Regions from separate parts of the Homo sapiens genome. Here region 2 is linked to region 1. The links come from fine-mapping of genetic effects on gene expression. Tissue or cell type: aorta. Region 1 holds a variant in brackets; the other region holds the start of a gene. All regions are shown on one strand. Distances are between the middles of the regions. Region 1 overlaps CCDC3 (coiled-coil domain containing 3). Region 2 holds the start of CCDC3 (coiled-coil domain containing 3).

The links. PIP is the estimated chance that this variant, and not a neighbour inherited with it, causes the effect.
Region 2: it holds the start of CCDC3, and the variant in region 1 is the best candidate, but not a certain one, in a credible set for the expression of CCDC3 in aorta (GTEx, PIP 0.54).

What each region holds. Positions count from the first base shown.
Region 1 is chr10:12,938,399-12,953,837 of GRCh38, reverse strand. The region is part of intron 2 of CCDC3 (coiled-coil domain containing 3); the gene reads left to right. Among named protein-coding and RNA genes, the nearest start is that of CCDC3, 56 kb to the left of the region's middle. The variant T/C (reference allele first, on the strand shown) is at 12,211.
Region 2 is chr10:12,995,510-13,010,948 of GRCh38, reverse strand. CCDC3 (coiled-coil domain containing 3) reads left to right here and starts at 9,236. Exons shown (of 3, transcript NM_031455.4): 1 at 9,236-9,752; 2 at 12,437-12,611. The coding sequence starts at 9,379. RefSeq lists enhancers at 9,106-9,606, 9,607-10,107.

The DNA.
Region 1 (15,439 bases):
CTAGACACTTTGGAAGTCTAGCTTCCAAAGACTTATGTTGTTCTCTTCTTCTCCCTACACAAAAGGTTTTTTTTCTTCTGTGATCAAGGCTTCTGAGCATTGCCTGGGGCCGAGTGCCTCGAGGCCCCCTGTGGCTCTTCTGAAGTCACAGCTCCACAGGGTAGAGCTGAGCAAGCTGTCCTCCCAGCTCGTGGTCCCCCAGCAAGGCAGCAGTAAGACTCACAGCAGAGAAAACTCTGCCCATGTTTAAACAGTGTGTGTCTGAGCAGTAGGCTAATAACTTCTCCGTGGCATGCCTGTTCAAACACAATCAACCACAGATCTTCTGTTTTCCTTTTGCTTCTAATCGTACCTGTATTCTCTCTGTATTTTAATCTTGTTTAATTTCCTCAGTATATCCCTACAGATGTAGTATTGGGGATATAAAGACATGAGCTAGTGGAGCGGGAGGGGGTCTGATAGGGTTTGGCTGTGTCCCCACCCAAATCTTATCTTGAATTCCCGTGTGTTGTGAGAGGGACCTGGTGGGAGGTGATTGAATCACGGGGTCAGGTCTTTCCCGTGCTGTTTTCATGACAGTGAATAAGTCTCATGAGATCTGATAGTTTTAAAAATGGGAGTTTCCCTGCACAAGCTCTTTGCCTGCTGCCATCCTTGTAAGATGTGACTTGCTCCTCCTTGCCTTCTACCATGATTGTGAGGCCTCCCCAGCTGTGTGGAACTGTAAGTCCATTAAACTTTTTTTTTCCTGTATAAATTACCCAGTCTCGGGTACGTCTTTATCAGCAGTGTGAAAACGGCCTAATACGGGGTCCAACAGGACTGTGTGGATTACCCCTCCCTCCCTTCCTTCCTTTGATATTCTTTGAATAAGATCAACTGTAGCCCTCAAGAAGCTCAAAATCTGAAGGAAAGCAGAGTAAAACATCTAACCAGATGAACTGCAAGAGGATGATAGAAATAAACCCATGGATGTGCACATGGTACAGTGGTAACCTGGATGAGAACTTCATTTACTCAGCAGAGGTTGAGGTTAAGGGCATGTGGTGAGGGAAGGCTTTGAGGTCACACCTGGCCTGGGGCTTGAAGGAGGATGGTGATAAATTGCTGGGCTCCCAAAATGACTGGAATCTCAGGCAGAGAACACTGAATTTGCAGTGTCACCAAGTCATAAAATAGCCACATGCACCTGGAGAATTCGGATTCGTTCATCAATGCCAAAGGATGAAGTTCAAAATGGGGCAAGGAGGAGGAAGTTGCCACTGGAAAGTAAGAGGGGAACTCGGCTGTGAAGACACATCATGGGCTAGTCTGGGAGTTATTCTAGATGATGGAATGCCATCAAAACATTTCAAGCTGGAGAGAAATACATTCTGGGTTCTGTTTTGTTCTCTCAGTCTACCTGAGTATATTCATTTGCACCTCAATGAAACATGATTTCTTTGTTGGGTTCAATACATGGTCCATGACCGTAAAAGATTATTTTTGAGTTTGGGGATTGTCCTAATTCATTCTATCATCAAGTCATAATGATTTGCTGAGCTAATATTTATTGAGGGCCTACTTTGTGCCAGGAACTATCCTAAGAACTGAGGATGGAGCAGTGAACCAACAAAACCTTCTCCCTCCTGAGGTCACATTCTATCTGGTGCCTGCTAGATAATATGTTCATGGTCTGGGGAGAACCACATGAGCCTGTTTCTTGGTCTCACCTGATTTGGGCACGATCAGTTTGGCTATGTTCTCTAGGCGGCTAGAAGTGGCTAGAAGTCATTTCTATTCTGTACCTTTATTTCCTTATCTGTCCAAAGGGTATACTCGTGGCCTATGGTGAAGATACCAGAAGGTTGTACTAGACATGGTACAGACAGGGACTGAGTTTCTTGGAAGGTGAATGCACAAGAGACATAAAAAGAGGAGTTCTTACAAAAACACCAGCGATCCCTCTCCACTGTGTATGAAATCAGTGGCTTCCATGTGCTCTGGGCTGTAGCCCACACAAAGAACAACTTTTTTTTTTTTTTTTTTTTTTTGAGATGAAGTCTCACTCTGTTGTCCAGGCTGGAGTATTGTGGCTCAGTCTCAGCTTACTGCAACCTCCGCCTCCCAGGTTCAAGTGATTCTCCTGCCTCAGCCTCCTGAGTAACTGGGACTACAGGCGCATGCCATCACACCCAGCTAATTTTTTGTATTTTAGTTAGAGACGGGGTTTCACTGTGTTAGCCAGGATGGTCTCCATCTCCTGACCTTGTGATCCACCCGTCTCAGCCTCCCAAAGTGCTGGGATTACAGGCGTGAGCCACAGAGTGTCACAAAACTGCATAAATGATGCCTGATACTTCCTGTCCACCCTGCTTTATTTACAGATGCTGGTAGAGACCCCCGGATGGATTTCACAGCCCACTGCTAATGGATCATGCCCTGTAGATTAGGAGCCATCGCATTAGGTCAAACATTCCTTAAATGGGTTTTAAACTTTTTTTTGAGACAGTCTCACTTTGTCACCCAGGCTGGAGTGCAGTGGTGCAATCACAGCTCTCTCTAGCTTGGCCTACTGCTTCAGCCTCCCGAGTACCTGGGACTACAGGTGCACACCACCATGTCCAGCTAATTAAAAAAAATTATTTTTGTAGAGATGAGAGTCTCACTATGTTTCCCAGGTTGGTCTTGAAGTCCTGGACTCGAGTATTCCTTCCAAAGTGCTTGAATTACAGGCATGAGCCACTGTGCTTGGCCTAAACTTTTTATTTCTCACAGTGCTCACTGAATACTTTCTGATTGATTGCCTCAGCTCCTGCTTGGCCTTTTCTAACCCAAGCTACTGTGCAGAGTGAGCCAGAGAAAGCTCAACCTTCGTGTTATCGAGGAAGGCCAGACAGACGCACCCTACTGCAGACTCAGCCCCTCTCAAGGTGACCTAGGCTGACCTGTCATGATTACTCCAGTTGGGCATTAAATGGAGTCAGGTGTGGTGGGGGAGCAGCCACCCCCAAGCCCCCCATATCTTCCTCACAGAGTCTGTCAGTGCTGAATATGTGATTGTGTCATGACGCCTTTCTCTAGAGAAGCCCACAGGTCTGAGCTTGTGTGGTATGTGGGTGCTTCTAAGGGTTTCTGACATGGGCGAGGAGTCAGGAACTGTAGAAATGTTTGCATTTGCCTTCTGTGTTCTAACAGTATACAGGAGAGGAAGTCAAAGTCCAGGATAAGGAGAAAAAAATGATAACCAAGTGCAAGGTTTTTAGGGTCACCAACCCCAAAGTATGAAAGCATTTCATGTTGTTTCAGTAGAGAACAATTTGCCTCGTTCTGCTCTTTGCATCTGAACTGATCTCAGTCTTAATGGCTAGAATCTGATGGGGTGGTGGATGAATTCTTTAGATTGTTGCTTTTTAATCCCAGCAGATGCCTGTATTTTTAATTGAAACAAACCCCTGGGAAGAGCATCCTCCTGACCATTTAGGTTGAATCTCTTTCTCTTAAAACTGCTTTCCGGAGGGTGCTTTGGAGAGCATTTCCTGTTAGCTTGAACTCTTACACCTGAGGCCTTATTTGTCATGTGTAGTTATTCATGCATTCAATAATTATTAAGCTCCAGCAGGCAGAGGAAGGCCTTGGGTTAGTCAGGGCACTGGTAACAGCTTCTATAGGAGATGGGACAAGAAAAGGACCCATGTGGTCTGGATTGGGCAAGGAAAGCTTTTACAAGGAGAGAGAACAGTAGATGCAGGAAAGGGAATGGGAGGCTGGGGGCATGGCCAGAGTGAAGGCATGGAGAAGAGACAGCAGAGATGAGCACAGGAGGTGATGATGGGCTTGGATGTGACAGGTGGCACCAACTAGGAGAGAACACAGGTGTGTGAACCCAAAGTAGGCACACAGATATGGATACCACATGGCTGCTTTGAAGTGTGTATCTCTGGGTCTACACGGTCACCAAATATACATTAGATGAGATGACCTCAGCCTGATTTCACCACCTAATTTCTTGACAGTCTCTGCACCCATTACCATTTGCTTCCTTAGAAGTCATGATTGCACTTTCCTCTGGGCAGAAAACCCAGATATACTGGTATTAAGACTGGAATAGTCTTTTGCTTCAGGATCTGATAGGATCTCCTGAAAAGAGCCAGGCCAGGCTATTACTTACATTGATTTAGGAAAGTGAACCTGCGATTATAATTTTTTTCTCAGCAAGCAAGGCAGTTATGTATCTTGTTGGGGAAAGTAGTGTGTATTCTTTAGGATTCAGCTCAGCTTCAGTATTGGAAAACCCTAGTAATACTGGCTCAGGTAGATGTTTATTTCTCTTGTGTGAAGTCCAGGCTGGAATGGAACTCCACAGTGTCAGATCCCTCCATCGGGTGGCTCCACTGAGCATGGCCTCCGTGGCTAAGTTCAACTCCTGGTCCAAGATGGCAGCTCCAGCCATATCACGTCTGCATTCCAGCCAACAGGAAGGAAAAAAGAGTAAGAGAAGGACATGCTTTTTCCCTTTATGAAGCACTTCACTGAAGCTGTGCACACCACTTCTGCTTATATCCCATAGCCAAAACTTACTCATGTGGCCACACCCGGTTCAAGGCAGGCTGGGATATGTGGTCTTTATTCCCGGCAGCCATGTGCCCAGTTACAGAGTTCTCTTAGCAGCTTTTACTAAGGAGGAAACAAGGGGAACACTGGCAGTTGTGTCTGGCTCTTCTGCTATTTAGCTAACCAGCAGTGTTTGCTCCCAGGAGCCCCCAAAATTGTGATGTTGCAGTTCACTCATGGCCCAGCTACTGAGGACATTATGTAGGTATCCCCATAATGTCATGAGATATAAAAGAATTGCCTCCCAGCACTTTGGGAGGCCGAGGCGGGTGGATCACGAGGTCAGGAGATCAAGACCATCCTGGCTAACACGGTAAAACCCTGTCTGTACTAAAAATACAAAAAATTAGCCGGGCATGGTGGTGGGCGCCTGTAGTCCCAGCTACTCGGGAGGCTGAGGCAGGAGAATGGCGTGAACCCGGGAGGTGGAGCTTGCAGTGAGCCGAGATAGGCCACTGCAGTCCAGCCTGGGCAAAAGAGCAAGACTCTGTCTCAAAAAAAAAAAAAAAAAAAAAACTGCCTTAAAAATGAGGACTTAAATTTTTACCCCTTTTCGTCTTCAGTTGGTCACCAAATTTAGCGCTTCTAGTAATTTAAGGTGTTGGACCAGTGGTCTAAAGAAGGGCAAACTCTATTTGACAATGACTCTCACATTAGAGTTGAAGAAAGAGATACACTTTTTCAACTCTAGGAAAAGTCCCAAAGGTAGAGAAAACACACGGGGTTCTGGAGCTGAAGGTGGCCCCTCCCGTGTGTGTGTGTGTGTGTGTGTGTGTGCAATTGTCTGCCTGCCTTTAGCCACATCAAACTCTTCACCATGATATCACACATGCCTGAGAGAGAGGCCCTGGTCTCCTCCATATCCTGAGTCAGTTTAGTATATGGGCTGTATTAGTCTGTTCTCATGCTGCTAATAAAGACATACCTAAAACTGGGTAATTTATGAAGGAAAGAGGTTTAATGGACTCACAGTTCCATGTGGCTGGGGAGGCCTCACAATTATGGTGGAAGGCGAAGGAAGAGCAAAGGCACATCTTATGTGGTGGCAGGCAAGAGAGTGTGTGCAGGGGAACTGCCCTTTATAAAACCATCAGATCTCGTGGGACTTATATAATGAGAACAGCATGGAAAAAACCTGACCCCATGATTCAGTTACCTGCCACAACCCATGGGGATTATTACAATTCAAGGTGAGATTTGGGTGGGGACACAGAGTCAAACTGTATCACCGACCAAGAGCTGGGCTCTGGAGTCAGGCTGCATGTGTTCAAAGCTTGGGTCTTCCAATTTCACTTAATAGGTGAGACATCTTGGGTCTGTCTTCTGAGCCTCTGTTTCTCCCATCTATGAGCTGAGGGACAATGCTAATAAGAGCAGGCACACCACAGGATTGTCAGGAGGCCGTGCTTAGCACAATACCTGACCCGTTGGTAAGGACTTAAAGGAAGTCAATCCACTGCTCTCCTCTAACTCATCTCTTCATACAAGAGGCACTTAATTATCAATTTATTAGTTACTGCTAAGCCCAACTCTTAGCAATGTATTCTACTCAGTCAGGTACTGAGTATCTCCTGTTTGTCCAGCTCCTGTTGCCTGGCTCAAAATAATTAGAAGATCTAGATTCCCGTCCACAGGGAGTGTATAATCTACTTGAAAATATAAAACACCATATAGGGTGGCCTGTAGCTGAGGTGACAAAGTCACAGGCCATTTTATCAGTGCCTCATGTATTTTTAGCACCCAACACTCTGGCACATGGTGGAAGCTCATGAAATATTTGTTGTATAGAAGTGAACAGGCCAGGTGTGGTGACCCACGCCTGTAATCTCAGCACTTTGGGAGGCCAAGGCAGGCAGATCACTGGAGGTCAGGAGTTCCAGACCAGCCTGGCCAACATGGTGAAACCATGTCTCCACTGAAAATACAAAAATTAGCCAGGTGTGGTGGTGGGCGCCTGTAATCTCAGCTACTTGGGAGGCTGAGGCAGGAGAATCACTTGAACCTGGGAGGCAGAAGTTCCTGTGAGCCAAGATCATGCCACTGCACTCCAGCCTGGGCTACCAAGCAAGACCCTGTCTCCAAAAAACAAAAAAAAAAAAAAGTGAGCAAAAGATGAGAATGGGAATGTTACATTACTTTGAAACTACATCAGGCACTCCAAAAAACTAAGGAGACAGAGCTGTGGGTGGCAGAATTTTTGACCGAAAATAAACTGTGGAGATAGAAACAAAAAAGGAAAACCAGCAATAAGAGAGCTGGCCTCTGTCTTTTGCTTTTCCGTTCGGTTTTCTATTTCTTCTTGGCTTCCATCCTCCCTTATGCTAGTGGCGGAGGGGGCTGAATGTAGTGACAGGATCTTTAGGAAAGTATAATTTTGAGGTAGTACAGGATGAGATGATTACCAAATAAGGTAATAATTCCCAAATAGGAGGGAAAATGCATGTTGATTAAAGGAGGGAAAAGGCAGAAGACAGAATGAAGAAAGAACACCTTTTCCTGCTACAATAGCAAATGGAGTTTTTGAGTCTTAGGGCATGGTGAAATACAATACCTGTGAAAAACTGTAGATAAATTAAATTTAACAGAATGTGAGCAAAGAACAGTTCATGAATCGGGCACCACTCAGAACCAGAATAGGTTCAGAGAGCTCTGCTTAGTAGTGTGAACCATGAGCTGCTCTAGGCCGAACAGGAAGCAAAGTAGAGAAATGACCTGATTAGCCACAGTTGGGCATTTGTCTTATTGGGCATGATCGGATCAGTTGGCTGCCTAGGATTTGCTGAGACCTGGCTATTTGTTACCAAAAAAAAATACTCCTAAGTTAGTTAGTTTTCAGTTTGTTTACATACTAATAAATTAAGGTGCAGTTTGTTATGTAGAAACTCACAGTACAGAGACAGCCTCTGCTAGTTGAACAATTTCCCCTTTTTGGTCAGCCTCTCAAGATTGACACTGATGCTCAGACATTGACGCAGCCTTAGACACTGATGCTATTGCCTGTCAGTCACTATCATAGTGGACATGTTTGGTTTCAGTATGGAATTCACAAGCCATGACATCAAGTCTGTTGAATGACTTGTTATGTTCCCTTTGTGGTTTTGCTGCTATAAATGGAGTGAGGCCATTTGGGGCAGAATGGGTGGCCGCATTTAAGACTCTTGAGAGAATACAGTGCCCTAGAGATACTACTATGATGACGTATCAGGAGGATAGTACTAACAGACTGAAATATGCTCCTTAACCAATGCACCCATGAACCAAACCAATTACAACCAACTAAACCAAAGAATTAGGCAGAAGAATCTACTTGTTTTAACCAAGTTGCCTGTTTGTTATCTAAGTGCAGCAGAAGGTGTTAGCTATCACACACACACTGCACCCCATTCAGCCAACAGATAGTCAAAGGCAACCTTGTTATCTTAAATAACTTGAACATAGTTATAGAAAAACCTTAGTTCTTTTTACTAGAAATGATTCCATTTTCTTAATCGAAGAGCAAAGACAACATGAAGCACGGGAAATTATCTTGATAAAACAGTCTTTATTTCCTAGACCAATTACTTAAAAGGTAAAGAAAAACCTTTTACCCTATCTTATTAAGAGCAGACTAGAACTCCAAGAAAACCTTGCTGTTTTAACACAGAGGACCACATTCTAGTTTTGTATCAGCGTACTTTTGATATTAATGTTAGAATTTAAAAGCAACTTAATTCCCTTCAAATATTAGCAAATATTAGGAATTTGATCACACATATAATTCCTTTCCCATGATTCTACTTTTACAAGCATCCTACAGTTTTCTTATATCCATTCGGGGTTTTTTTTTTCCCTATACTTTTTTTCTCACTGTGGAACAATGCCATTCTATTTTAGGACAAAAATTATTCTCTTTTTGCCTTTAACAAAACACATTCTCCTACCTTATAGATTTTCTGAAAATTCATCTTACTTATTTTGTATGCTTGCATATAGAGTTGTTTCCCGTATTATTTCTGGTAATTTTAGTTATATACTAAATCATCTTAATTTCCAGTGAAAGGAAGCAAGCAGTTGTGAACCCTATTACACTAGCTGTCTGTAGATTGACAAATTTATGAATCATAATTTCTAGAAGCATGTGCTTCCTCATAGAATAATTTTTTTCATTGTGACACAGAACATGTTTACTAACAGATTCAGCTATCTTTAGTCTCTAATAAAAAGCTATAGGGGAGGGAAAGTTGTATCTCTATCCTTATTAGAATTTTTGGCTAGGCCTGAGAATGAAATTGTTGTTTGTACACATTTTCCTCAGCCTGAACTTCCATCCTTGGTAAGAATATTAAAACCTTCTAGTATAGGGAAGACCCCTTTCCCATGGGAATATTTTTCCTACATCTAATTCATTGTTCTTAACAATTATACTTGGATTGCTCATGACAATGAGACATTAAGTATCCGTCACCTTAAGTTATTTTTCTTGCTAACAAATTTTGTACTACAGAGGTAACATGAGCTTATTTTACTAGTAAACATAGGTAGGAAAAGTTATGAGTCTGTATTATATTTCTAAACTGGAAAGTGTCTGAGACAGGTTTCAATCAATTTATAGGTTTATTTTGCCTAAGTTAAGAACCATGGCCCATTATATGGCCCCAGGAAGTCTTGAGAACATGTGCCCAAAGTGGGTGGTTTACAGCTTGGTTTATACATTTTAAGGAGACAGACATTGCAGGCAAAGACATAAATCAATAGATGAAATGAATACATTGATTCGGCCCAGGAAAGCAGGACATCTCAAAGCAGGGGCTTCCAGGTCAGAGGCAGATTCAAACATTTCCTGATTGGCAGTTGGTTGAAAGAGTTAAGCTCTGCCTGAAGAATTGAATTCAGCATTAAAAAACGCTTGTGTTTAGAGAAGGGGGTTGTGGAAGCCAAGGTTCTTGTCACGTAGATGAAGCCTCCAGGTAGCAGGCGTCAGAGAGAATGGATGGTGAATGTCTTCTTGGACCCTAAAATGTATCAGACTCTAGTAAGGGAAGGAGATTCTCAATGGAACACAAGTTTCCCCCATGAGAGAGAGCTTTGTAGGGCCATTTTGGAATATGTCAAAGAAATATATTTTGGGGTAAAATAATTTCCTTCAGGGCCTGTTATCTGTCATGTGGTACTCTACTGGAGTCACTTTGGTATCTTACTGCTACAAAGACTCTGCTTTGTCAGTCTTAAGATCCCTGTTTTAATGTTAACACTGGTCGGTTGTATGTCAACTCTTAAGGGAGGAGGGTGAAATGAGGCCAGTGGAACCTGTCCCTTCCCATTGTAGCAGCAACGTTGTCTGGGGTAAATACCCAAGATTCGTCATCTCATGCCAAGGAAATCAAGGATGTGGACACATAACAAGTGAGCTTAAGAGAAGAGGTTTAATAGAGAGAAAGAGAAAAACTCTCTTCCTGCAGAGAGAGAGGGTCTTCCAAGTGGGTCGTCTCATCTGTGGCGAAATGCACAGAGTTTTATAGACAAGCTTGGGGAGGCGGTGTCTGATTTACATAGGGCCCAGAAGACTGGTCAGACCAGGTGTGCCATTTACATAGTACACAAAGAGGCTGGCCATCCCACCCTAATCTGTTGTTATGCAGATGGGGTTTCTACCTGGGCAGCGCCATGTTGCCTGCCTTTCTACTGCACATGTGGCGACAAAGAAAAGGGAGGAGGGAACCTCCATGTTGAATATACCTGGCTTCCAAGTATCCCTTTTCTATTGGCATAGCTGCTGGCATTTGCCTATGCAAGCTTGTGTTTGCAGCTTGATTTTTCAGGCTGCTTTTTGTTAAAAGGGAAACCTTACCGAGGATTCTCATACCCTCACTAACTGCCTAAATAATTTCTTTTTAGCTACCTCATCACCATCATGGCCTAAACTAGTTTTTCACATTTCTTCGGGGTTCCCTTGGCCAAGATGGGGGTTCCATGTAGTCGTTTGCGGGGGGGTGCTTAGAATTGTATTTTTTGGTTTACTATCTAATGCTGACCACTCTATTTTCATTAAACTGACAAACTTTAACCAAAGATTATCCTAGAACACATAAACTTGGAAGGTATTTTGGATTCATTTTTTTCCTAAGAGTTTAAGGAGTACTTAATTTATATAAGCGCTTAAGCCAATTAAATAAAGCTCTTTTATAACTTAATTTTGGTAATACCATCTGAAGATAGAAAAAAATCACACATACGTACCTACAGAGAGAAATAAACATAAAGACAGAGCCCTCTGTTGTAGGTTTCATTTTAAAATTTAGGCATGTACTGAAATGGCGTCATTCATCTGCGGTAATACCCCACGTTCTTTGCCTCACACCAAGGAGATCAAGGACGAGGACACACAAGGAGTGAGTTTAAGAGCCAAGGTTGAATAGGCGAGAGAAAGAGAAAAGCTCTCTCTCCTTTGGAGAGAGGGGGGCTCCCAAGTGGGTCATCTGATTCTGTGGTGAAATGCATGGGGTTTTATAGAAGAGCTTGAGGAGGCAGTGTCTGATTTACACAGGGGACAAAAGATTGGTAGGACCAGGTGTGCCACTTGCATAGCAGGTGAAGAAGCTGGCCACCCCACCCTAATCTTTTATTATGCAGATGGGGTCTCTACCTGGCCGGTGCCATGTTGCCTGCTTCATTACTGTACATGTGGTTGACAAAGAAAAGGGAAGATAGGGCGTCCATGTTGAACATGACTCACCCCCAGGTAGCCTCTTCCTATTGGCACAGCTGCCAGCATTCACCCGTGCAAGCTTCCAGCTTGCTTTTCTATGTCTGTAGCTTCATTTTGCAGACTGTTCTTTCTTAGAAAAGAAATGACTTTGGAGCTGCTTTTTATTAAAAGGGAAACTTTGCCGACGACTTTTACCCTCACCAACTGCCTAAATTTCTTTTTAGCTCCTGTATCAGTACCAGATACAAAACCCACAAAATTTACTACTTTACAGAATAGCTGAATTCCAATTATGTTTCTGGCAGATGGAAGAAGTTAAGATTACTTGCTCTGGTAGCAAAGCTTTTTAGTAATATTTGTGGAAAAGACAAGAATTTTCATTTGCCCAAATGTCATTTTTCTTCTGATGAGTCATCTCCCTTAAAATTTCCATGTCAAAGGGCTAGCTGTAAGGTTCTAGAGAAAACAAGAGAGAAAATGGACATCTCAAAGGCATAGAGCATAGACTTCTGGCTTAATTACTATCATTTACCTAAAGAAAGAAAGAAGGGTATAGGTAAAGGCCCATTTAAGAAGATGGTCAGGAAAACCGCCTTCAACAAAGGTAAGACTTTTGAAGTAGATGATTCAAGGCCGTCTCCATTCTTTAGTTACTTAGTCCTCCTCCTATTCCTGGTGCAGAGAGGAAGGCACTCTTACAAATGGAGATCTCCTTCCTTAATAGATGGAATTTTCTATTACAAAGGGGTCTCAAAATAACCAGCTAGAAATAATCCTTATGCCAAAGCGGCATATTTTGGAGACTAACTTGGCTAGATCAGTGGTTTCCCAACCCAGTTTGTTTTTATACTAAGTTATGTAGGAACTCAACCTCAGACTCATGGGCTCCTGTAATTTAGTATGTCTTAGCTTCCCTTCAGCATCTGGTGCAG[T/C]CATCTTAATCTTTTCTTGGTCACAGACTCCTCTGAGAGTCTGGTGATGAATCCTCTCCCAGATAAGTACATTAATATACATGCAACATTTGTATTCAGTGCCAAGATGTGCACATAGCCCTCTGAAGCCCACCTGTTACCAGAAAGGGGTCCTGATCCAGACCCCAAGAGAGGGTTCTTGGATCTTCTGCAAGAAAGAATTCAAGGCGAGGCCATGGAGTAAAATGAAAGAAAGTACAAGAATAAAAGAATGGCTTCTCCATAGACAGAGCAGCCCTGGGAGCTGCTGGTTGCCCATTTTTATGGTTACTTCTTTGTAATATGCTAAACAAGGGGTGGATTACTTATGCCTCCCCTTTTTAGACAATATACAGTAACTTCCTGATGTGGCCTTGGCATTTCTAAACTGTCATGGCACTGGTGGGAGTGTAGCAGTGAGGACCACCAGAGGACACTCTCGTCACCACGTTGGTTTTAGCCGCTTGTTTACTGCAACCTGTTTTATCAGCAAAGTCTTTATGACCTTTATCTTGGGCTGACCTCGTATCTCATCCTGTGACTTAGAATGCCTGAATTGTCTGGGAATGCAGCCCAGTAGGTCTCAGCCTTATATTACCCAGCCTCTACACAAAATGGAGTCGCTCTGGTTCATACATGTCTGACCACACCCACAGAGTATCACAAGTGCAAAGATCAGCAATTCCTACTCAGGGATCTAAATTCAGTGCCTCCCTTTCCTGTCCCTGGACAGTGCTGGGTAAGCCTTGTCAAGTCCACAGATCCCCTTCCCAGCATCTTGTCAGGTTCTTCCCTGTTGATCAGTTTTCTTCTGCAGAACTTGGAACATGGAGGGTTAGGCTATAGGCTCTTTCTCACTTAATTCTGCCTCATTTAAATTTATGTGCAGAAGGCAAGGGAGAAGGGTAAATTGCCTACCTCTTACGTATGATTGACTTATTACTTAGCTTCTTGCTCGGTACCACCAGTATAGGAAGTAAATACGATTATTCTGTAAGGTAAGGCTCTACAAGGTTATGATTGGACAGTCATGGAACTAATTAGTGGTTAAGATTCAAACTTGGGTATCTGACCCCGGATCCTATCTTATTTCTACTATACTTCAGGCCTCCCTGATTTTCTTCCTTTGACTAGGGAACCACCCTAACCCTTAAGGTGACTTCTGTAGACATCTAAGCTCATCCATTCCTAATATAACTCTCAAGAGGCCATAGACTTTGAGGTTCTTGCTGATCTTTTCATTGTATTCTCTTGTGCACCAATAATATACTTGAAATGTCAGCCACCATGCCAACATCTCACTTCCCAACTATAAAATCACATTCCCAGGAAAAACAGTAAACTGGAGTTTGGTTCAGGGAAAAAAAAAAAAAAAAAAAACAATTTCAATGATTCTTTCTCCAGATGCCTTCTTTTTCTTTTTGGGTTGTTGCTTCTGTAACTGAAATAGTCTGATATATTTTAAGCTGTTTTCTTTTCTATGTAAAAACATCCACCAATGGGGTTCTGCACTTTCTCAGAAAAAAAACAGTATGTTTTTAGACATTTAGGTCAGATATATTAACACAGAAGTGGAATTAGAATGGGTTAAGGCCCTAGAATGGGCATTTAATCCATCTTGACCAGGTCAATGCTATTTTTAAAGGCCTCCGACCTTTGAACTATTCCCATAGCTAACAATCTTGAAATTCAGAAAATTCTTAGAATTAGCCAAGTGAATTAGCAAAATGGTTGAAATTTTTATTAAATCATTGGCTGTAAGAAGAGGGTTTTGTTGTCGTTGTTGTTGTTACTCTGACTCTTAAAGAGATTGGCCAGGCCTTGATTTCATTACCCTTTTGGGTAATTACTACTATTTGATCAGAATATGTCATATCAAGCAATTTTTCTGCATAATCCCCATGTGAGGTTGGCCTTCCCAGGGTATCTCATCTGGACAGAATTGATCCGCTTTCCCAGGGTATCTCATCTGGACAGAATTGATCCGCTCCTACCATCTGTTGAATACTACCAACATTTATTTTCTTGAGACAGCATCTGGCTCTGTCACTCAGGCCAGAGTGCAGTGCCACGATCATCCCCCCTCAGCCTCCCAAGTAGCTGGGACTACAGGTGCATGCCACTATGCCTAGCTAATTTTTGTATTTTCAGTAGAGATGGGTTTGTACCATGTTGCCCAGGATGGTCTCAAACTCTTGAGATCTGCCTGCCTTGGCTTCCCAAAGTGCCGGGACTACAGGCGTGAGCCACTGCACCCAGCCTCTACTAACAGTTATTATAAAATATAAAGAAAGATTTCTTCTCGTGCAGCTTAAAAGCTTCAGGTCTGATGGACTGGACAGAAGTTGGAACACGGGAGTAGGAATTTACCTTACTCAGAAGGACACCTTGTCCACTGGCCTGGAAACACTAGATTTATAAAGTAGGAAGCAAGGTCATTGATAAGGGCGAATGCGGAAGTGATAGGAAAGCGTTAAAGGCTAAAAGTCACTGTTGTAAAGACTGGGAAAGAGAGCTGACTTGAGGCACGTAAAGGCTGGGCAGAATTGAGGCTGGAGATTCTGAATTTGTAGTGGATGCAGCCAACCTCTCAGAGATAGGAGGAGAGAAGATAGTGGAGCTAGAGTTAGATCTGGGGTTGGCATATTTATTGTGTGTGTTTATTTAAAAGACAAGAAGGCAAGGGGATTGGGGCTATGGACCAGAACGCAGGTGAGGTTATGGATCCTTGATTCATTCACCCATGATACAAATGTCTATTAAGCAGGCATTATATAGGAGACAGTGTGGCTGGATAGGGAAGGAGGCACAAGACAGGAGTAAATAGTTACAATAGTTACTTTTGGAGGGAAAAAGAGGGTGGGAGGAGTTCAAGGAACCAAAGAAGTGAAGGCACGAGCAATCAGAAAGGATAGTAATGGAAGCCAGTGCATAAATAGCTCTGTGTGCCAAGCAGTGTTCTGTATTTTGCACATTAACTCAACTCTCTGGGATAGGACTACTGTTATTCACATCTTATAAGCATGGAATGATTGAGTAACTTGTCTATGGTCTCCTAGCTAGTACATGGCAAAGCTGGGATTCGTACCCAGGCATCAAAGCCAAAGTTTTTCACGCTATACTGCACTGCCTCTAGAAGGTTGTGGTCCAAAGGGGAAATAGTTCCAGCTGATGACGTAGCAGTGGGGATAGCCACAGGAGAAAGTAGCTG
Region 2 (15,439 bases), 57 kb before region 1:
CGGCCTCGCAAAGTGCTGGGATTACAGGCGTGAGCCGCTGTGCCCGGCCCTTTGTGACCGTTTTATAGATGAGAATTTCTGAGAGCAAATGAATTGGTAGAGGAAATCCACTTGCTTGACTACTCTGTCACCTGATTCATGCATGTTTTGGTGTGTAGTAATAGTTCATTGCTTACTATTGATGAGTAGTGTTTAATTGCAGGCCACGGTTTATTTTTTCATGTACCTGTGGATGGACACTTGGGTTGTTTCTAGTTTGGGGCTACTACAAATAAAGCTGCTACCGCCATTCATATACGAGTCTTTATATGGGATATGCTTTAATTTTCTCTAGTATATCCCTAGGAGTGGAATGGCTTAATCATATGTTTAACTTTTTAAGCAGCTGTCAAGTTGTTTTCCAAAGTGCTTTTACCATTTACATTTCCACCAGCAGTACATGAGAGTTCCAGTTCCTTCATGTTCTTGACAACACTTGGTATGGTCATTATCTTTAATTTTTGCTATTCAAGTAGATGTGTAGGAGTATCTCATAATGGTTTTGAGTTTCCCTAGTGACTAATGACTTTGAGCGTTTTTTCATGCACTTATTTGCCATTCTTAGCTTCTTTGGTGAAGTGTTTTTTAAATCTTCTGCCCATTTTTTATATTGGGTTGTTTGTTTTCTCATCATTGAGTGTTTTTTGTTTTTTTGTTTTTTTGAAATGGAGTCTTGCTCTGTCACCCAGGCTGGAGTGCAGTGGCATGATCTTGGCTCACTCCAAACTCTACCTCCCAGGTTCAAGCGATTCTCTTGCTTCGGACTCCCTAGTAGCTGGGACTACAGGCACATGCCACCACACCCTGCTAATTTTTGTATTTTTAGTAGAGATAGGGTTTCACCACGTTGGCCAGGCTGGTCTCGAACTCCTGACCTCAGGTGATCCAACCGCCTCAGCCTCCCAAAGTGCTGGGATTACAGGCATGAGCCAGTGCACCCAGCTATATCATTCAGTTTTGAGAATTCTTTATGTATTCTGAATATGTATCCTTTATCAGATATATGATTTGCAAATATTTTCATCCAGTCTATGGCTTGATATTTCATTCTTTTATTAGATATTTTGATGATGTCTAAGTTTTGTCTAACTCAAGTTAGCAGAGGTTTCCTCCTAGATGTTTTATAGTTTTAGGTTTTATATTTCGAGTTAATTTTTGTGTACAGTGATAGGTATGGGCTGAAATATTTTTCCCTCAATTGTTCTAGCACCATTTGTTCAAAAGGTCGTTCTTTTTCCAATCAATTTCCAATGAATTATCTCTGCAGCTTTTTAATAATCAGTTATCTATATATTTATGGGTTTATTTCTGGACTTCATTTTGTTCCTTTGACATAGGTATTTGTGTTTGCACCAAATCACACTTTATTGCTTACTATAGCTTTATAGTAGGTCTTGAAATCAGGTAATGTTAGCCTTCTGATTTTGGTCTTTATTTTCTAAGTTGTTTTTGGCTATTCTCAGTTCTCTACATTCCATATGGAATTTTGACTATGCTTATCAATTTTTATCAAAAAGTCCACTGGGATTTTTATTGAGTTTGCATTTAATTTGTAAATCAGTTTGGCTAGAATGAACATCTTAACAATATTGAGTCTCCCAACCTATGAAAAAAATATATATCTCCATTTTCAAAATATTCTTCAATTTCTCTCAGTAATGTTTTGTAGTTCTCAATGTATAAGTCTTTTACATATTTAATGAGATTTATTTCTAAGTATTTCATATATTTTGATGCCATTGTGAATGGTATTATTTTTAAAAATGTCAATTTCCAATTGTTGTTAGTAAAGAGAATACAATTGATTTTTGTATATTGATCTTGTATTCCACTTATTAAACTTGATTATGAATTCTAGTAGCTTTTTTGTAGATTCATTTGCATTTTCTAGACAGATGATCATGTCATGGGTAAATAGAATTTTACATCTTTTTTTCCAATCTGGATGCTTTTTATTTTATTTTATGGAATTATTGCACTAGAACCTCCAGTACTATGTTGAGTAGACGTGATGAAACTGAACATCCTTGTCTTGTTTCTGATCTTAAGGGAAAGCACTCAGTCTTTCACATTAAGTGAAAGGTTAGCAGTAGACTGCATAGATGCTTTTTATCAGGTTGAGAAAGTTCCCTTCTATTGCTAACTTACTGAGTTTTATCAAGAATTCTCTTTTTGTAAGCATATAACATATATTTCTAAGACTTGTGGGACAGATAAAAGTGTATATCCACAAATTCACATGCAACTATATTGATTTCTATATCTATTATTAAAATCTATGAATTCATGTTTCACCACCACAGGATCCATTGTAGTTTTCTTTCTTTCCATATATGTAACTCTCTTTTTTGATAGTGAGAAACTGGTTTCCATCCTCCTTAATAGATTTGCTTATTTGATCAACCTCTTGTGTGTAACTATTCTCCCATCACTACTCCCATCCCATAGCTCATGCCATGCCTTCCACATCACACTTGGAGTCTGGCATTCACCGCACTGCTGCTGCCTTCCCCAACATGGACATCCTCATTACCCTGCTTGGCCTCTGACTCCCTGGCTTGGGCTGCCCTTCTGCATGGACACTCATCTCACCCTAACCATGCTCTGATTCTCTGAACTGGGTCATGCCCTTTCACATGGAAGTCCCCTGTTCTTGCTCATGCACTGACATCCTTGTGGATGTTACCCCTATTGGCTTCTGAAACCCATGTTGGGCTGCATGCCTAGGAGGCCACTATTGCCTAGACACTGAGTCTCTGCAAATGCTGCCCTCCCACATGGTCAACCCCATAACAGGGTACCCTGTCATGGGGTTTTGGAGCCTGAGACCACATGACAGGCTCTTCTTTTCCAGGGACTCTCCTTAACCCTTCTTGGGCTCTCATATCCTATAGTGGGCCACTCCTCTGCATTGATGCCCTCACCCCTTGTGGTTCACACCTGCAGTAGGAAGCCCCAGACAGAAGCTCCTCCTATCTTGCATGTCTCTTCCATCTCTTATCCTGCCCCAGCTTGGAGACCTAACTTGTTTGGCCCCAGCTAAAGACTTTTAGAGTGGAGTTTTTCAGGAAGAGATAGAGAAGAAGAAAGAAGAAGAACTCACTCATTTATTTTTCATGAATAACTTAAAATATTTTTTACATAACTAAAATATTTTCCACTATTTTGTATTAGGATTTTAAAAAAATTATTTTGGGAAGAAAGGACATATTTGACCATACTTGGTCTATCTTTAAGAGAGGGTAGCTCCATTATTGCTTCAGAAGTGTCTTTTATAAGGCAATTGTAGTCATAATTAAGTTCAACTAGTGGTATAACCAAGGTAAAAGCTCAGCATGTTCCGGGAGACAGGTACACACTATAATCCAGGAGGAAATAGCCCAGACACTAAAGAAATTGCAAGACTGCCTATATATATCAGCAGACTCCAGGCAGAACCAAAGTGGGCAGAATATAATACTAGTTTTGGCAAAATTTATTGTTTTGATGCGTTTGAGAGTATAAATTTAATATACTTCTAGAGGTGACTCTAATAGCTTACTTGATTGGTTGACTACAATTTGAAGGAATTCCATGCTGGCTGAGATGCCAGAGCTTCCCTGAAACAATGTAAAGGAGGGAATCCAAAGGCTTAGGGAATTAGGAAGGTTGAACTGAATACTCGATGTGTGACCTGCACAGCCACCTGCCAACTACATTCCACAAGATGACCCAGAGGTATTTCCTTCACGACAGCAATGAGAAATATATTAATGAAGGAAGTACTGCATCCTTGAACATCTCTGTGGTTTCTCCTCTTTCTAGAAAAGTTATGACTCTAGTACAGGATGATGCCATCGAAAAGGGGTCAAACGGCAGCACTTAACTGCCAAAGGGAAGGTAAGTACCTCTACCGTAAAGGTCGGGAGGGGCATACTAGTAATCAGAATGTTTCGATTGGCAGAGATCTTTGACAGTGGATAGTTGATCATGATGTCTCTTGAAAGTAAATATGTGGGCAACCTGTGGGTGTAGTGCCTGATCTATGTAACAGCAAAAACTCTGGTAGCTGAAAACCTGACTTGAATTCCCACAGAGAGGAACTGAAGCCCCTTACCTAGCTTTTAGACATAAGTAAATTTATAGACACAGAGCCTTTTGACTGAAAGGTAAGCCAGGTGCCCTTGAGGAAGGACCCTGCACCATTGCCACATGCACACACCATAAATCCTCCTCTAAGACTTCTCCAAAGGGACCAAAGTTGACAACTGACAAACCCCCACATTTTCTCTCTGACCCATGGGTGATGGCTTTTATTGTTGGAAGGACTAAGCAGAAGCTCCTAGAACTTTCATTTCTACCAAGAGAATAAATCAGAAGCAATATTGCATCCCTGAGGGGATTGCAAAAATCCATGCTGCCATCAAAGACTTGAAAGAAGTGGCGATAGTTATCACATCTCCACTGAACTCATCAGTTGGGCTGTGCAAAAGTTGCATGGGTCTTGAAGAATGACTGAAGACTACTATGAACTTAATGAGGTGGTGGCTAAAATTCCAGCTGCTGTCCTAGATGTAGTATCTTTCCTGGAGCAAATTGATATGTCTCCCAGCATTTGCTTCGTAGCTACTGACCTGCCCTTTTCTCCTCACTGATTTGCAAGGATTGCCAGCAACGGTTTGCATTTACCTGTCAGGGCTAACAGTATACTTTCAGTTTTGCCTCAGGCTATGTCAATTCTCCTGCTCTCTATCACATTTATTCTGCAGAGATGTTGATTGTCTTGACGTTCCACAAAACATCACATTGGATTACCTCATGGATGACAGTATGATGAATGGATCTGATGTTCATGAAACACCATATACTTTAGAGGCCTTGGTAAGATATAAGGTGGGAGATAGGCCCCACAAAAATTCAGGGACCTGCCACCTCAGTATGGTTTCTGGGGGCTCAATTGTCACTCCTCCAAGGCAAAAGGAAAGTTGCTGGTCCTTGGATGATCTAAATGGGAAAAGAGGGAGAATGTATGTTCAGCCTTTTTGTATTTAGGAGGGAACATATGCCACATTTAAAAATGCTTTTTGAATTCATCTATAGAGTTATCTCTAAGGCTGCCAGTTTCAAGTGGTGTTGAGCAAGTTCTGAGAAGTCTCTGCAGCAAGTTCAGGCTGTGTACAAGTCACTGTATCACTTGAGCCTTATTATCTAGAAGGTCCAGTGATAAAGTATTTATGGCAAACAGGAATGTTGTATGGAGTCTTTAGAAAGCACCAGAAGGAAAATCACAGCACAAAACTCTGGGGTTTTAGTGCACATCTATGCCTTATTCTGGATATGGCTGTTTGCCTTTTGAAAAATAGCATCTCCCTTGCTACTAGGCTGTGGTAGAGATTGAATGCCTAACCATGGTATGCTGGGTGACTATGTAATCTGAACTTCTCATCATGAATTGGGTGTTGTATGACCCTCCTAGACATAAGGCCATGTGTGCGCAGCAGCAATCTACCATTAAATGGAAATGGTATCCAAGAGACTGGGATTGGGCAGGTCCAGATGGTGCAAGCAAGTTGCATGGGCAAGTGGCTTAGATTCCTTTGACTCTGAAGGTACGTTGCCTCTTCCACTCATATGGTTTATGGCCTCTTGAAGATACTCCAGTTGAATGAGGAAGAAATAACAAGACTGGTTTGAAGATTTTTCTGTATTACACACAGATATTACTCAGTTTCACTCATGGGTGATCCTGAAGGACACTGGTGAAGAAAAATTCTCCCAGTCGATAGAACTTTGAGCAGCAGATTTTGTTGTATGCTATGTCTAGACTAAGAGAGGGCTGGGAGTACACATGGACACTGATTCGTGGGCAGTTGCTAGTGGTTTGGTTGATGGTTAGGGACTTGAAAGAAATAGGATCAGAAGATTGATGACAAGGACATCTTGGGAAGAGGTGAATGAATGGACATCTTATAACGGTTACCAAGTGTGAAGATATTTGTGACCCATGTGAATGATGACCAAAGTGCATTCAGTGGAGGGGAAGTTCTTAGTGATTAGGTGGGCAATTGATGTACTCAGTGGGTGTCTGTCAGTCTCTTTTCTTGGCCACTCTACTGCTTACTCAATGAGCCCATAAACAGAGTGGCCATGGTGGCAGAAACAGAGGGTATTCATTGCCTCAACAATGTGGACTTCCTCTTACCACGGCTGGCCTAGCTAACACTACTACTACTGCTGAGAGCCTAATATGTCAACAATAGAGGCCAACATGGATCCCCTAATGTGGCCCCATTCACCTGGGGAACTAGTCAGCCACCTGGTGGCAGGTTGATTCCATCGGACCTTTTCCATCTTGGGGTGGGGGGTGGGGGTCAGAGATTTGTCCTCACTGAAATAGACACATTCTGGACACGGATATGCCTTCCCTGCCATAATGCTTCTGCCAGTAGCACCATCTATGGACTCATGGGGCACCTTATCCACCATCATGGAATTTCCCATAGTGATGTTTCTGATCAATGATTCCCACAGCATTGCTTCTTTCACAGCAATGAAGTGCAGCAGTGGTCTCAAGGCCATAGAATTAACTGGTTTTACCACATGTCCCATCACCTGGAAGCAACTGGACAAATTTTGAAGGATGTAACAGTTTAGTGAAGACTTAATTATAGTGTCAGTTGGGAGTCACCACACTGAAATGATGGAGTCCATCTTAAAGTGTACTTACTGTGTGTGCTTTGAAACAGAACATACATATACGGTACTATCCACCCCACAGCCAGGACATATAGGTCTCGGAATCAAGAGATGGAAGTGGCTCATGTCACTATTAAACCCAATAATTCACTCACAGAAGTTTTGTTTCCCCTCCTGGCTACCTTGAGCTCTGCTTGTTTGGAAGTCTTAGTCCCCAAAGAGGAACTGCTCACTACGGTACACTGCAATGGCTCAATCAGGAAGAGAAACCCAATCAGTGAGGCACTCTGCCAGATCTTACAGGGGAGAAAAGCATGACTGATGTGTCTGCTGAATCCATGAGGACGATTTCTTGCAGGTGCTCACTTCTGCAAAATACACTGTGGGAAGTATTGGAAGAGTTTTGATTCTGTCAAGTTTATACAACAAGAGAAAAAACAGCCATGTTTGCTGATTTTTATTTATTTGCTCACCTATGTGGAAAGAAAAGAGAGGGCCTTACAGTCTTTTGGGGTAGACAAATCTTTTCCAGGCCTTCAAGACACTTGAAGATGCAGTTAGTAAGAAAAACTTTCTTACTATCTTATCTGATGAGTTACAGTATAGGACTAAAATAGAGCAGGGATTCTGGGTCATACAAAATTAATGTTAGGTCAGTTGCACACTCCTTGAGCCATCATTGGTGACTCTGCTAAGGTTTTCTCTTAATTTGCTCTGTGTATATCCTGGTTAAAGGGCCGACCTGTGTCTTTAGAGCATTTCCTATATTTGGCCCTATTCTAGTGTTGTAGTTAAGTACATGGATCTGGAGTCTGATTGCTGGGAGCTGAATCCTAGCTTGGTCAACTTGTAGCTTTGTGATCTTTGGTGTCAATTAACTTCTCTGTGCCTGTTATCTGTAAAATGAGGATAATAGTTATATCTACTTCAGAATATTGTTTGGAGAATTTATTAAGATGACATATGTACAGTCCTTACAACAGTGATTGGCCCATGGTCAACAATGACTAAGGTTTAGCAATTCTTATTATAACTTGGCAGTGTGTGCTGTGAGTCTGCCTGCCAGGAATATAAACCATTTGGGATCCCTGCTCTCTTTCTCTAGCAAACCTGCAGAACACCTGCTAAATAGCTCATATAGACTGAATTATGTCTCCCCTCCCACCTCCAAATTCATATGTTGAAGTGCTAACTCCCTAATGTGACTGTATTTGGAAATAGGGTCTTCAGGCAGGTAATTAAATGAGGACATAAGGGTGGGGTGATAACCCCATAGGACTAGTGACCTTGTTAGAAGAGGAAGAGACCAGGGCTCACTCTTTCTCCATCACACACAGAGAGAAGGCCACGTGAGGACACAGTGAGAAGGTGGCCGTCTGTAAGCCAGGAAGAGAGGCCTCACCAGTAACCAACCCTAGCACTTTAATCTTGGACTTCCTGCCTCCAAAACTCTGAGAAAGTAAGGTCTGTTATTTAAGCCACCAGACTAGAGTATTTTATTATGGCAGCCCTGGGAGACTAATAGCATTATGAAATTGCATAATTTAAATATTCAGGGTGGATGTGGGGGCTCACGCCTGAAAGTTCAGCACTTTGGGAGGCTGAGGTGGGAGGATCGATTGAGCCCAGGAGTTTGAGACCAGCCTGAGCAACATAGCCTGTCTCTACTAAAAACAAAAAATTATCCGGGGTGGCAGTGTGCTTGTATTCCCAGCTACTTGGGAGACTGACCTGGGAGGATCACCTGAGCCCAGGGGAGGTCGAGGCTGCAGTGAGCCCTGATGGAGCCACTGTACTCCAGCCTGGGTGACAGATATAGACCTTGTCTCAAGAAAAAAACAAAAAACAAAACAAAAAACCTGTTGCCTTTAGAGATAAAGATGGAACTGTGGAGTCAGTATCCTCAAATTCACTCACTGATGTGAAAAGCTGTTTGGGATTTACTTCTGAATGTATTTCTCAGGTGTACAGTGTTTAGAAAATGGAATCAGGGATTATGGAAACCAAGAAAATCAGGGCCAAATGATTGCTTTTTGGAATCTTTTATCAAAGCTTTTCTAAGATCTTCATTAAATAACTAGCAAATCTGAGAGAGCACGAGATCTCAGCCCACACTGAATTTCCTAATCTCTGGGAATATAAAGTCAGATTTGGTTTCTATGTATTTTTACTCTGAAATGTAGAGAAAATGTAAAAACTTAGGCAGTAATCGTGCAAATTAAGAGTCATTCTTTAATGAATGCCTTGCGTTTGCAAACAGGCTTTACGCCTGGCAAGCTCGGACCACGTCCATCGTGGGGCGCCAGGAGATTGCTGGGCCACTGTCCCCAATTCAGGGCTGGGTCCCGGCGTCCCCGCGTTCTCCGAGTCCCTGGTCCCCGCCCCAGCCGGCGCCGGGACCCGCCCGACTCCCCGCCCCTCCCCCGCCCACGCCCCAGCCGCAGGGGGCAGGGCGGGAGGCGGGCGCCCGGCGCGTCCAGTCCCCGGGACCCTTTTAAAGCGTGGCGCGCCAGGGCCGGGCATGCCGAGCCCCGTGGCGGAGACAGCGGTGCGCTCAGCTCCCGGGAGCGGCCCGAGCAGCCGAGCGCCCAGGGCTGCCCTTCCCGGGCCGGCGGGCTCCCCGGGCTCCCCGCCGCCGCCCCGTGCGCCCCGGGAGGGCCCGGCATGCTGCGCCAGCTGCTGCTCGCCGCGCTCTGCCTGGCGGGTCCCCCAGCGCCCGCGCGCGCCTGCCAGCTGCCCTCCGAGTGGAGGCCCCTGAGCGAGGGCTGCCGCGCCGAGCTGGCCGAGACCATCGTGTACGCCAGGGTGCTGGCGCTGCACCCCGAGGCGCCCGGCCTCTACAACCACCTGCCCTGGCAGTACCACGCCGGCCAGGGGGGCCTCTTCTACTCGGCCGAGGTCGAGATGCTGTGCGACCAGGCGTGGGGCAGCATGCTGGAGGTGCCCGCCGGCTCCAGGCTCAACCTCACCGGCCTGGGCTACTTCTCGTGCCACTCCCACACCGTGGTCCAGGACTACTCCTATTTCTTCTTCCTCAGGTGAGCCCGGCGGCGCCGCCGCCACCTCTCTCTCTCTCTGCGCCACCTCCCGAGGTCGCCGTTACCTAGAGCCAGGCCGGTAACTCCCCGGGCAGCCTGTCGGTGTCAAGTGAGAATGCCCCTGGGGCGCCTACCCCTTGCCTTCTTGGATCTTTCTTGCTCCGTCTGACGTCTCTACAGACATCCTGACTACCCCTGGTTAAGGCGGTTTAAAAGACAGGGAAGGTTTCTGTGCCTTGTACACAGAAGAGCATTGCAGACAGAAGCTCAAAGCGCCCTCCAACAGTCCCTTTGACTTGGGTTTTTAAACTGGCCTCAGTGGGAGTAGATTGGGACGGTGAGAAAAACAATCTTTGAAATCAGTCTGTGGCTGGCATTTTGGCTCTGCCCTTCCTAACCGTGATTCTGAGCGCATTTCTTGACACCTTCTCAAGAACTTCCATAGCCTCACCTGTGTAAAGTGAGAGACAGGGCTGGTTGAGTGAGGAACGTAACTCATGCAAAGCACCTGGTGCAGGTTAGAAGTTGACCAGCTGTCCACTCTCTCCTCTTCCTCATTTGCTCAAATGCCAAGATGTGAATGGTGTGGAATGTAGCCCGGGATTGCTTCACTGTCTCATATCAGCTGCCAGGTTCTTTGAAATAGCAAAGGTTTACTAGGGCTTGGGGTTCTGCTGCTGGTAAAATCCTGGGTAGCAATGCTTTGAGGAGTGGAGAGGTGAACCAGGCCAGGAGGTCCTCTTTGATTATAGACCACTGGAATCTTCTGAAGTTCCATGAACTTCAGAACTTGGCCTGTGGTCAAGATGGAATGCATCTGCCTAAGAATTCAGTCAATTCTCATTGACTACTGAATTCTTCTGAAATTTGAATAGAGAGTGCCAGGTAGAACTCTAAATTCTTTGGTTAGCTTCAGTTGGAATTTGGAGAGTGATATAAAACAACTGAGAAAAACATCAAAATGGAATCTAACCTATCTATCAAGATAGTAAATTAATCCACTGTTGGGGTGATCGGTTGTAGTTCGTTTTCCCAGTCTGGGAAGTAGCACTGAGGATATTTGGAATGAGGCTGACGTGGGTCTGCAGATTCACTTTTAGCTCGCATTTCTCTGAGAAAGAAAACAGTTCTACAAAGTGGTGTTTGTAAGTGCATGGCAACACATGTTTTCCATATTGAAGCCAGAATATCTAAGTTTAAAAAACACGTCTTGCTTTGTGTTGGCTTGAGTGGTTCAGCTAGATTAAGTTTTTATATATATGTATGTATTTCCAGAGAAGTGTAGTTTCTAAATAAAGCCAGTGAGACTGAGAGAGTGCCCTTCTCGATACAGAGAAACTTAGGGTTTCATGTTTTTAATTAGGAAAGATACTGAGAAACCATCTATAAAACTATTCAAAACCAGAACTTTGTTCTCCAAAGGAAAAAGAGCCCAAGTGTTTGAGCAGGCTTTTTAAAGAAATTTTTATCATGAAATACAGTTTGTCCAATAGTTCCGTGGTGCTCAGCCAATTCTCATCTTTTTTGCTCTACCATGTTTACAAAAGTTAGGGCAGAAATACAAAGACAGTAGTCTGACATTTTCATTTCACAGGGCTGTCTTGCCTTGGAGTGTGTTAACAACTACACACAAATCATTCCTTCTCTGTTATTCTGGGACCCACTGAGATGAAACTGGACCTGTGGTCACTGTCAGGGGTGAGGGTGGCAACGGAGACTTGCTGGTGAGCCCTACGTGTTTTCTGTAGACTGGAGTGTAACTTTCATCTCTTTCTTTTTGTGACATTTTAAAGAATCATTCTAATTGATTAATGCTAGGCCTTTAAATGTGTTCACTAACATGCATACTGCATTTACTTTGTACCAAGTGCTTCATTTACTTAGGTTTTTGATGCAATGCTTATGACATCACCAGAAAAGTAGGTACTATTTTTTACTTATATATGTTCTTTTTTTGAGATGGCGTCTCACTCTTGTCACCCAGGCTGGAGTGCAATGGTGCAATCTCTGCTCACTGCATCCTCCGCCTCCTAGGTTCAAGTGATTCTCCTGCCTCAGCCTTCTGAGTAACTGGGATTACAGGTGTGTGCCACCGTGCCCAGCTAATTTTTGTATTTTTAGTAGAGACAGGGTTTCACTGTGTTGGCCAGGCTGGTCTCGAACTCCTGACCTTAGGTGATCCACCTGCCTTGGCCTCCCAAAGTGCTGGGGTTACAGGTGTGAGCCACCGCACCTAGCCAGTACTATATTCTTTTTGCAGATTAGAATACTGAAGCTTAGAGGAGTTAAGACATTTGTTTCATGTCATACAGAAGATAAATAGCAAAGACAGAACTTAAACATAGGTGATGACAGCTGGCCTTTTTTTCACCAGGAAATAAGGAACACTCTTTGAGAAGGAAGACCCCTTGGGGGACTTGGAAGACAACACAAATAGACAAACAGGCACCATACACATAGTTTTCTCCATACTTTGCTCAAACTCATCTTTTTGAAAACCTTAAGGATAGACTGATGTAGCGTGAGACAAAGAAATAATTAGAAGTAGTAACTCCTCTAATGAGAGCCATGCCAGACATTGATGTGAAATTGGCAAGCCCGTTGCAGTTGTCTGTGACTCTGGATTGGAGCTGGTACACCCTTGACTGTCTAGCCTACATGTCTGCCTTTTTTTCCTCCATTAGGATGGATGAAAATTATAACCTCTTGCCTCACGGAGTCAATTTCCAAGATGCCATCTTCCCAGACACTCAAGAGAACAGAAGGATGTTTTCTAGCCTTTTCCAGTTTTCAAACTGTTCGCAAGGGCAGCAGCTGGCGACTTTCTCCAGTGACTGGGAAATCCAGGAAGACAGTAGGGTAAGAATTGGCTAAATCCTGTGCCACAGCAAAACAATAGTATAGCTACACCTTGTGTGAATTTTGTGACCAAAGGAATCAAGAATACTCTTCCAAAAGCCCAGATCAGAGAGTATTAGCGTATGCCCTCTCTCTCTCCTGCTATCCCTCCTTACCTCCCAGCTGTTAAAAAAGACCATTCATAAACTTTGGATCCCTGAAGCTTTACTGTTGGATAAGGAGTTCTTCCCAAAGTATGAGAACAAGATGAGATGAAGATTGGCATGCTGAGCCTCAGTTTCCTCTTCTACAGAACAGGGACAATAGTAGCATCTATATCAGGCTTGTCCAACCTGCAGCCCAGGACAGTTTGAATGTGGCCCAACACAAATTTGTAAACTTTCTTAGAACATTACGAGATTTTTCTGCAATTTTTTTTTGCTTATCAGCTATCGTTAGTGTTAGTGTATTTTATGTGTGGCCCAAGACAATTCTTCTTCCAATGGGGCCCAAAAGATTGGACACCCCTGATCTATGTCAGAGGGCTAATGCAATATGATTTAAATATGTAAAAACTATAATTATGTAAATCCGTTAGCGTAATGCTTAAAAGAGTAAGTGCTCAATACATGTGAGCCGTTACGACTGTTCCTGACTGTGTATGATTGTCATGGACAGCACAGGGCCCTAAGAAATTGTCTTAGAGGAAAGGAAAAGTGCTGAGGGAAATGAAATGAAATTGCTATCATAGCTACCACTTCTGTGATTCTTAACTATAGTTGGTAAGACATAGAGGTGCAGGATGGCCAAGGTGGTTGCAAAATGTAAGGGTCGGGATCGTAAGGGTTGGGAATGAAAATATAAAAGAGTCTTCCGATCTGGGCCAAATGCCAGAGTTGGAGGAACATTTTGATGATCATCACTCTTCCAAAGCAATGGGCTTTGCCACAACCAAGTTGGGATGATAGTGGGGGCCAGGCCAGTCTAGGCCTCTGGGGCTGTGACCCATCTCTTCCGGTCCCCGATTGAAGACATTTTTAGGGCAATGTGACACACTGCTGGAGAGAGAGTTCTGATGTGGGTATCACATGGAATAAGGACTTTTTTTTTTTTTTTCCATTAACGAACCCATTTGCACATGTTAAGAGACTCCCTTCTTTCCACCCATCAAGAAGGGTTTGAGGGAAGTGTCTTTCTCTTGTCTGGTGGGATGGCCTAGGGTAGCTGCCTTGTTCTTCCGAATCCCCTTATTGTCTTTTTTATTTTGTTTTCCTTCCAACTTTTATTTTAGGTTCAGGGGGTACGTGTGTAGGTTTATGACGTGGGTAAATTGCGTGCCACTGGGGTTTGGTATACCAATCGTTTCGCACCCAGGTAGTGAGCACAGTACCTGAGAGGTAGTTTTTCCATCCTCACCCTCCTCCCACCCTCACGTAGGCCCCCGTGTCTATTGTTGCCATCTTTGTGTCCATGTGTACTCAATGTTTAGCTCCCATTATAAGTGAGAACATGCAGTGTTTGGGTTTCTGTTCCTGCGTTCATTTGCTTAGGATAATGGCCTCCAGCTGCATCCATGTCTGCAAAGGACAGGATTCAAACCCGCTTCAAAGGGAGATTCAAAGGGAGCTTCTCCCAGGGCTCCCTGGACCCTGGAGGCCTTCTTCATGCTCTTGCACAGAAGCTATTCCTGTGAAGGGCTGGTACGTCCAACTAAGGGAAAGGATTTCTTCTTCTTTGACATATGTCTGTAATCCCAGCACTTTGGGAGGCCGAGGTGGGGGGATCACCTGAGGTCAGGAGTTCAAGACCAGCCTGGCCAACATGGCGAAACCCTGTCTCTACTAAAAATACAAAAATTAGCTGGGCAGAGTGGTGCGTGCTTCTAATTCCAGCTACTCGGGAGGCTGAGGCAGGAAAATCGCTTGAACTCAGGAGGCGGAGGTTGCAGTGAGCCGAGATCACACCATTGCACTCCAGCCTGGGCGACAGAGTAAGACTCCATCTCAAAGAAACAAACAAACATACATTCCTCAGCTCTGCCCTACTGACAGCAGTCTAGACTTTTCTAACCCCTCCCTGATGGTTAGAAAGTTAGAACTTTCTGAACGCTTCTCATGTAGTTTGCTCCCAATGTGGTTCTAAGCACCTGTTTTTATTCTTCCTTTTCTCCTTCTTAATCATTACTGTTGCCTACTCCATATTGAGTTGGACCCAGCAAGTCTAAGCCTGAGCATCCCAAGCCCGAGTCATACTTAATTTCTTCCAAGCGAAGGCTTTTTAGGCTTGGCCCTTTTGTTCCCCATCTTGTGGGAGCTTTGTTTATATGACTATATAATAGATTTATGTCAAGAGATCAGATATTATTCTGATCTTTAATAGGTTAGCCCTTAAAATCTTAAGCTACATAACTTCTTAGCACTATGGTCACAATCTAGCTACTAACATTTTTCTGGAATTAGATTTTTCCATCATTTGGGAAAAACAAAGAACAATGGGACCGTGGAGAATTGTTTCAGCCTGAAGGCAGATCTATTTCTGTTGATCAGATGTTGATCTTGGGGGAGAATTCCTTTTCCCTTTCCCTTGAATCACCCTGGCCTCTTAGATAACAAAGTGTGGGAGCATTCCAGGCTCAGAGAAAAAGTGGAAACTTGAGGTGAGGAAGATCATTATTTCACTTTGCTGAGCTGCTGTGGAGCAGAATTTAGTTCAATCTGAGGGACTCTGCACGTTTCCAGACCTCTGCTTGTGCCGTTTTTACTCCCTACCCACTTTGAAAGGGACCACATCAAAGCTACATAAAATTAGCCCATTGTGGGCTGATTGCAGTGGCTCACGCCTGTATTCCC